2 separate regions of the Homo sapiens genome follow, and region 2 is linked to region 1. Evidence: fine-mapped expression QTL. Tissue or cell type: fibroblasts. Region 1 holds a variant in brackets; the other region holds the start of a gene. All regions are shown on one strand. Distances are between the middles of the regions.

The links. PIP is the estimated chance that this variant, and not a neighbour inherited with it, causes the effect. A credible set is the group of variants that fine-mapping cannot tell apart.
Region 2: AP3S1 starts here. The variant in region 1 is the best candidate, but not a certain one, in a credible set for the expression of AP3S1 in fibroblasts (GTEx, PIP 0.58).

Annotation. Positions count from the first base shown.
Region 1 is chr5:115,947,179-115,951,536 of GRCh38, forward strand. No RefSeq gene overlaps it. Among named protein-coding and RNA genes, the nearest start is that of LINCADL, 7.2 kb to the right of the region's middle. The variant A/G (reference allele first, on the strand shown) is at 1,739.
Region 2 is chr5:115,839,799-115,843,956 of GRCh38, forward strand. It overlaps AP3S1 (adaptor related protein complex 3 subunit sigma 1), which reads left to right and starts at 2,137. Exons shown (of 6, transcript NM_001284.4): 1 at 2,137-2,308. The coding sequence starts at 2,240. It overlaps ATG12 (autophagy related 12), which reads right to left and starts at 1,767. Exons shown (of 4, transcript NM_004707.4): 1 at 1,592-1,767. The coding sequence starts at 1,754. RefSeq lists enhancers at 630-1,130, 1,134-2,035, 1,424-1,723, 1,734-1,783, 2,774-2,983 and silencers at 2,014-2,393, 2,494-2,683.

The DNA.
Region 1 (4,358 bases):
TCCTATTCCAATGTACTTGAGGACCACAGGTTCAAAGTGATGAAGCAACAAAATGGATAAACACCATTCAAGCTGCATTAAATATCTTTTCTCTTCCTGCCTTCCTTGGTTCCTAGAGCCTCCTTGAGCTTTCTCTTCTTTGTGCACCCCAACTCCCTCTTCCTCACCTTACATCTTTCCTTGGTAAAGAGGCCAGGAGTAGCACTTTACAAAACAATATATGTGAGTAATATAAGACTCAGAGGCATACCGCCCCATGTGGAATTTGTCTATGCCACAATAATTTCATGTTTGCCTATGTTGCCTGTGTCTCTGTGAGGCTCATGATGTCACAGCAGAACCCCATCATGCATATTTTTATTATTGCTTCTACAACTAATGCTTTAACATGATTCTTTTAACTAGGACTCATCTAATTTTAACTTTTCTCCAGGAGAATGCCCACTTGGTCGGATTTCATACATACTTAGTCTTTACTCTTTATTATCTGCAATTAACAATAGGATATATTTACATGTCAATGATTTTAAGAACAATTTATTTACTCTTGTTTTTTTCAAGCTAATAAAATTTTATTTCCATTTGATGATGTTTATTGTAACTGAGCAAATACTCAATCTTTTCTAAATCAGGATAAAAATAAACACAGTAAGTTACTACATTATATAGGTATCATCAAAAGAGTTACTGTTTAATCCACTGACTATGAAAAATCAGCTTTTCATACTCTTTTATCAATATTCCAGATTGAAATTCTGTCACAGGCTAGCAAAAGTAGAGACCTTTATATATGACATCTGAACAAATAAGAGCCTCAGGGCCCAGCTGCAGATATTCAGTGTTATATAAAATATGGATCTAAGTCCTAGCTCTGTTTCCAACATGAATTCCCTCATGGAGCCTGGTGTATTCTTCTGGCTGCTTCTGCCCCTGCTGACTCCACAACAAGGACATCAGGACTCCAAGGACACCATGCCTCCTGGATTCGACAAAGGACCCTGCAGAGCCTGGCTTCCCCATGGTGTTCACATCAGTCATTGTCCTCTTCTCTCATTCCACCCCACCCCCTTTTCCAGCTGTCATGTATGAATACTTGCCAGCTCCTTGTTATTATTGCTTTTTGGAGTCTTTTCGGTTTAAGGATTGGGCAAGTTTGCAATTTAAACCTTATGGGTTTGAATTTTCAAGTGTGAACTTTGGTGATTACTCTTGTCCAAATGCAGCTTCCTGCCCTCGTGGAAAAAAAAAGTCTCCAGAGACATTTGGACATCTATTGCAAAAGATATTTGGACACCTATTGCAAAAGAACATATTGCTGATGATCTAAGTATAATGGAACCAGAAGTATATGGATTATATTTCCTCTTAAATGAGCATGATTTTCAAAATGAAGGAAGTGAGTGAATTATTTGGCAATATTGAGTTTGGAGATGGTCAATTTTTAAGTATTGGAAAAGTGAGACAGAAAACCAGGCCTGCTTTTAGGATTCTTCCTCCTTGGGTGGCAGGGAGTTACTATATTTGGTTCTGTTGCGGCCACTCCCCAGCTGTGAGAACTGTTGCACAGCCATCTCCTAGCATGGATTGGAGACTGCCACCATTCAAGGGCATTATTAAGTGATGGCCCATCACTCAAATGCATTTAACACTTGTAAATAAGTGGTTCATAATTGTAGGATATAACACTAATGGGAGTATTAAGCAGTTGAAGCCTTTGTAACAGATCAGCTACCAGCCT[A/G]GTCTTTTTTTTTTTTTTTAAATAGATTTCATTTTTTGGAACAATTTTAAGTTCATAGCAAAGTTGAGTGGAAGGTATGGAGATTTCTCATATACCCCCTACCTCCATTTGTAGCTTCTATCATTATGAACCTAACATTGACACACCACGATCATCCAAAGTTCATAGTTTATATCAGGGTTCACACTTGGTATGGTCTGTTCCATGGGTTTGGACAAACGTATAATGCTGTGTGTCCACCAATATAGTATCATACAGAGTTGTTTCACTGCCCTAAAATTTTTCTGTGCTCCACCTATTCATCTGTCCCTCCCCACATCCCCTAGAAACCACTGATCTTTTTACTGTCTCCATGGTTTTGCCCTTTCCAGGATGTCATCAAATTGGAATGAGAGTATGTAGCCTTTTCAGATTTAGTCAAGTCTTTGTAAACAGGAAGATCTGGTTTCAAATCCTGGCTAAGTGACCTTGGACAAGTTCTTTTGCTTTTCTGAGACTGTTTCCTTATCTTTGAGAATTAAATAAGACAATGTTTATCAAGTGCCAGGTTCAGACCTTGAAACATTCATTACTGTGCAGATTTACTTGATTCCTCAATAGAGAGAGAGGTGATTTTTTTGATTAAGGAGCACAACTATAGTAGGAAAAATCATTATAGCACTCCTTATGTCGGACCCAATATGACATAGATGTGTGTTTCCAAAATTTACACAATATGTAGAGATTGGTCAATGACCTGATTTAACAAGCATCTTCAGATCACCAAGTGGGGCTTCCCGCCTTTTCTCTTTAGGCACCATTAATTATTGGTTTCCCTTGGAATTTTGTCACAAAGAAGGAAAACCAGATAGAAGAAGGCCAGAAATGCCGCAAACACACAGGATGAAGTCATCCAATATGTGTGATATTGTTCCACAAATATAAATGTCTTAGAATTAACAAGAACAATTATACAGATCGTGCAAAGTCACAAAAAAGCAAGCTAAATGTCTGTGCAGAGTTGTAGGGCAATGCTGATGGGGCTGGGTAGGCATGAGCTGATGGTACAACTATCTTTGTGTTTCAAACATTTGGTAAAATAGTAAAAGTGAAAATCTACATTTGAAATTACTACAAGAATTATTGAGCAGAACTTATGTGCAACACAGGGAGTTAACTCGGTGGGAATGCAGATATTGAGGTGAGCCAGCCGGGACCTGCATTCAACAGACAGAAGCCAAGAAAGTCCTGCAGCAACAAAAACATCATATTATAAATAAACTGCCATTTAGCCCTCTGAGGAAAGTGGAAACTTTCCTTCTACTTCTAAATTTCTGTGGAGTTGTAGCAGCCTCTGAAATCTGGTCCCTGATGTGTTCTGTCATTCTAAAATAAGCCCAGGTCCCCAAGAAGCAGGGACCCCACCTGGCCTTCTGTGGGAAGAGCAGTCTCACATCACTGTTTTCTGATCACTTCATTAAACATGTGTCTCCTTCACTGTCACTAAAGAGACAACACGTTTAAAGCTGCCTTCTCCCACTGGCCCAAATAGGTTGCCTTGGAAATATCTTGGACCCATTCCTTTACTTCATTTCCCATTGCACCAAACTGCCACACCTTGTTAACTTTTTTTTTTTTTTTTTTTTTGAGACAGAGTCTTGCTCCCATCCATGTTGGAATGCAGTGGTGTGATTACAGCTCACTGTAATCACAGTAATCACAGCTCACTGTAATCACAGTAATCACAGCTCAAGAGATCCTCCCACCTCAGCCTCCCAAGAAGCTGAGATTACAGGCACATGCCACCATGCCCAGCTAATTTTTAAATGTTTTGCAGAGACAGTGTCTCATTATGTTGCCCATGCTGGTCTCAAACTCCTGGGCTGAAGAGATTCTCCTGCCTCGGCTTCCCAAAGTGCTGGGATTACAGATGTAAGCCACTGCGCACAGCCCTGTTGACTTAAAAAAAAAAAAAAAACTTTATTGAGATATAATTTATGTATCCTACAACTCCCCCATTTAAGTTATACAGTTTAACAGTTTTTAGTATAATCACAGATAGGTGCGATCATCACCATAGTTAATTTTACAACATTTTCATCACCTCAAAAAAAAACCTCCATATTTTTAGCTCTATGCTCTCCTGTCCCCTATATCCCAGCCTAAGCAACAACTAACCTATGTGCTGTATCTATAATTTGCCTATTCTGAATTTTCATATGAATGTAATTATGCAATGTGTGGTGTTTCATAACTGGCCTCTTTCACTTGGCCTAATGTTTTTGAGGTTCGTCCATGTTATAGAACATATCAGTACTCATTTCTTTCTATGGCCAAATAATATTCCATTGTATAGATACACCACATTTTGTCTATTCATGCATCAGTTGATGGACATTTGGGTTGTTTCCAATTTTTGGCTATCATAAATAATGCTGCCATAAACACTAGTGTACAAATTTGTGTGTGGATATATGTTTTTATTTTTCTTGCGCATATACCTAGGGGTGGCATTGCTGGATCATATAGTAACTCTAAGTTTAATCATTTGAGGAACTACCTGTTTTCCAAGGCAGCTGCACCATTTTACATTCCCATGAATAGTGTATGAGAGTTCCAATTTCTCCACATCTTCTTCAAC
Region 2 (4,158 bases), 110 kb before region 1:
AACAAATAATGACAAGCACAAGGTAGGAATAGTTAGAAACTAAGTTTTATATTGGAGAGGCAAACTCAAATGCTAACAAGAGCCAGAAAATAAAAATCTCATCCTTAAATGACAGTTCAATTTGCAAAAAAATACTGTCCAGACCAAGAAAATATGCCCTCGGGCAATATTTAGATTGTAAGCCATTTTTTTTAGCTTTTGTTTTGCACAGCTATCATCAGAGTCAAGTAACAAGTTTTGACTAAGACTGTTAGACCTTAAAACGAATCTCCGAACGTCCGCTCTTGCCTATAGTAAATTGGAAGAAAAAATGCAACAAAACACTGTAAAACCTGCGGAATTCTTTTGAAGAAAGATTCCAGTGGCTATCCATGGAAATACTTATAGTGCATCAGGTGGAAATGGGAGTCTGATTTAAAGTGGGAAGGGGGGCAGTCTTGGGAGAGAATTATCCTCCACAGTAGCAGAAGTTGAAGAAAAAGCAATGAGACCAATGTCTTTTTTTTTTTTTTTTTTGAGGCGGAGTTTCGCTCTTGTTGTCCAGGCTGGAGTGCAATGGCGAGACCTCCGCCCACTGCCACCTCCGCCTCGCGGGTTCAAGCGATTCTCCTGCCTCAGCCTCCCGAGTAGCTGGGATTACAGGCGCGCGCCACCACACCCATCTAACTTTTATATTTTTAGTAGAGATGGAGTCTTACCATGTTGGCCAGGCTGGTCTCGAACTCTTGACCTCAGGTGATCCACCCGCCTCAGCCTACCAAAGTGCTGGGATTACAGGAGTGAGCCACCGCGCCCGGCCAGAGACCACTGTCATCTTAAGACAGAACGGGGAAAACGTCTAAGGACGAAATCAGCCTCTCTGAATCGAGGATGCTTATATGCTGCTTTTCCCATAGGCAACTCTAACTCTAAACAGAGTGCTTTAGAACACGTAATTTTAGCAATCTCTTTTACAAAGGGAAACATTCTCAAGCAATAAAGGGTTGAGGATAGCTGACTCAAGCAATGAAATAACTCACAAAGGTTCCAAAATGTGTTTCTTAAAAAGGTAACATCTATGCCTTTAGCTTTCCCTTAGCAGTCTTCATTCTGCATAAGAATTTGGTTTTTGGTTTAAGGAGTGAATTCACAACCAACTGGGAGGGGGAAAAAAGCAAAAGCGAGTTAAGTTGGAAGGCATGAATTCTAATCCAGGCTTTGCCAATGACCACCCCTACCACCATAAAACATTACTCAAATAATTAGCTCCTGTGTTAAGTACCTGGAATTACCGAGACCCCCCTCCCCCCGCCCCACTCAGCTCCCTCCCTCCTTCAAAGAGCTCGCAGTCTGGCCAACTCAAAAAAATACAGTATAAAAATAAGTGTGGCAGCCAAGTATCAGGCCCTACACCGATAGACAGAGATGGTATTTTAACACTCAACTTAAAGGCCTTAAAAATCAAAAAGTACACTTCTTTTCTTCTGATGACTGGTCAAAATGCAGGTCTAGGACAGGCGCTCCTCTAAATTTTGCTTCTTTACTGGCCGCCACCCCTACTCGGATGCAATCTGAACCTCCCGCCTCTCTGCCCGGAAATAAATTCAGTTACTTTTTTTCTTGGTGTCGCCAGCAGGTTCCTCTGTTCCCGGGGAAACTGCAGCGGAAGACGGGGGCTCCGGGGTGGTTGTTTCTGGGGAGACATCCGTAAGTCCTTCCCCTCCAGCAGCAATTGAAGTAGGAAGCTGCAACACAGACTGCGGCTCCTCCGCCATCTTGCTTGGAGACACTCGAGAGCGGAAGTAGCGACTGAGCGCGTGCAGTGGGCGTGCTTTTCTCCAGGGAGCGTCGCAAAGGAGGCGCCGGAGTAGGGGGACGCAATTACACAGTGAAACTTGGTGTTCCCGGCTAGTCATTCAAATCGAAGCTGTCGCAGACCTCTGAACGTTAGTAACGCAACATGTGTTTCTCCGCGACTACAGACCTCGGGAGAGGAGCGGTGGGCAACGTGTCTGTGCTCGGTCGAATGCGCACACTCCAGTTAGGCCGCTGGCTCGGACCTAGAAATGTTTCCGCTTTCCTTAGTGCCTGCCCCGCCCAGGCCCCGCCCCTTGGGCCCCGCCCGACGGCTCGGGAGCGCGCGCGGTCGCGTGCGGGAGGGGGCGGGTGGGGAAGGATCGCAGGCGAGATTACGAGGCGAGGCTCGCGCGCCCGCCCCCGCCCTGGCCCCCAGTGCCCACCCGGTCGGCCCGGCACAGCCATGATCAAGGCGATCCTAATCTTCAACAACCACGGGAAGCCGCGGCTCTCCAAGTTCTACCAGCCCTACGTGAGTATCCAGCCGCCGCTGATCCGGGCGAGGGGGAGTCGTTGGCGACGGGCAGCGCCCAGCGCGGCTTTCTCAGAGCGACCCCCTCCGGCGCGCTGCGGCCCTTGTCCCGTCCCGGCCGCCTGGCGCTCGCCAGCTGTCAGCCTCCTGGTGGGTGTGGACAGGGTGCCCACCTCCCTGCCGCGCGGTCAGCCACCGACGTGGCTTTGCCCGGGCGGTTCCTCCGCCCGTCGGTGGGCTGCATGCTTTCCTGGCTGCGCGGGCGAGGCCCTGGAGACTTCCCGGGGCCCGGCCCTCGCCGATCGGGCAGCCGCAGCCCAGCCGCGCCGCGGAGCCCTGCGCCCAGTCCCCAAGAGCCCACCCCGCGCGGCTGCCTTCCTGCCGCCCGCGGCTGCAGTTAGCCCGGGAGGAGGAAGACGGCGTGGAACTCGTTCTTCTCGCCCCCCTCCGCCGACTCCCATCCTTTCCAGGTGGACTTCTTTCTGTTCTTTGGACAGATGGGCTACCGTTTTTCACTGTGGTCCTCTCATAGCACAGGAACTTTGGCTTCCTGCGTTTGATAACTGCACGTTCTGTACAGTCTCTCTTCTGCATGTTTCGATACGTGACAGACTGCCCAGTGTGACTTTCAGGTGTCTCCTTATTGAAAAGGAAGATATGTGAGGACCTAATATTTTTATCAGGCTTTTTACCAGCTGGCTGCAAATTATTTACCCTCGAAGTAACCGGCGACGTTTGTAGTTGACTGATTGGAGCTGTGGTTCTATACCTAAAAGTTATGATTTCAGCTTCTGGTTTGGCATTTTTCCACGTATGGGAATTTGCCCTCATTTATAGTTTTTTTCTATTTATGAAGAATAGTAGCATTTGTAGAACTTCTCTTTTAACGTGTAAATACTGTTTAGTATGGACAAGTGCAGGAGGCATTAAGGTAGTAGAGATAAGTGATTTGTTGATGATCGAGGAAGGGTTTTATAGAGTTATGTGCTTACCTGAGGGCAGAATTCGCTAGCTGAAACACATAAAATTGGACTCCCAGTGGTAGGATTAATGTGAGGTATAACTGTTGTGTGGTATTGTGGCACTTTGCTTATAGCAAGAAATGAGCTTTCAATTCAATTTTGAAATTGTGCCAAGGCTAACACTTTTATGCAGATAAGTCCCAGATGGAAATCAATCTTGCCATTACAAAGTAAATGTGAAAATGTCAGTTTGCCTAAAATGATAATGCAGTCTGGAGGTGTTAGTTGAAGTGAGAAATCTTGAGCTTATTCTTCATTTTTTTCAGTTGTTTTGCTTTTGCTAGCTATAAAGAATATTTTCTGCTACTCGTGTGTGGTTTTAATTTAGTATAACTTCAATACTAATGGTCTGTTTAAAAATTCTACATCATTCTTTAATCCAGATTAAATTCTAGTTGATCCTCCCGAATGGGAAAAAATGCCATTAACTTTACCTGTTTGTTAAAATATAGTACCAGCCTTTATTGAAGGAGTCTTTGTCATAACCATTTTGCCAGTGTCATCCATTTGCAGTGTAAAAAAGGTATGTTGCAATAGTAAAACAATTCAAAAAATTATTTTTCCATATCTAAACTTAAGCAATATTAAAAATAGTGGGTTTCCTGGCTAATCCATGTAATCGGTGTATACTACTCGTATAGTGTATAATTTAACTATCTATTGAAAAATGCATTTAATTTAGAAACTCAGAAATCTGTCTTTCCCTTGTCCAAAAGTGGGAACAGAAGTATTGTTTACCATCACTTACTAGGTAGCAGTGACGGTTAATGTGGGAAGTGGCAGTTTTGGCAGGAGTGGCAGCTCTGGTGGCATTTTTGGCCATTGTAT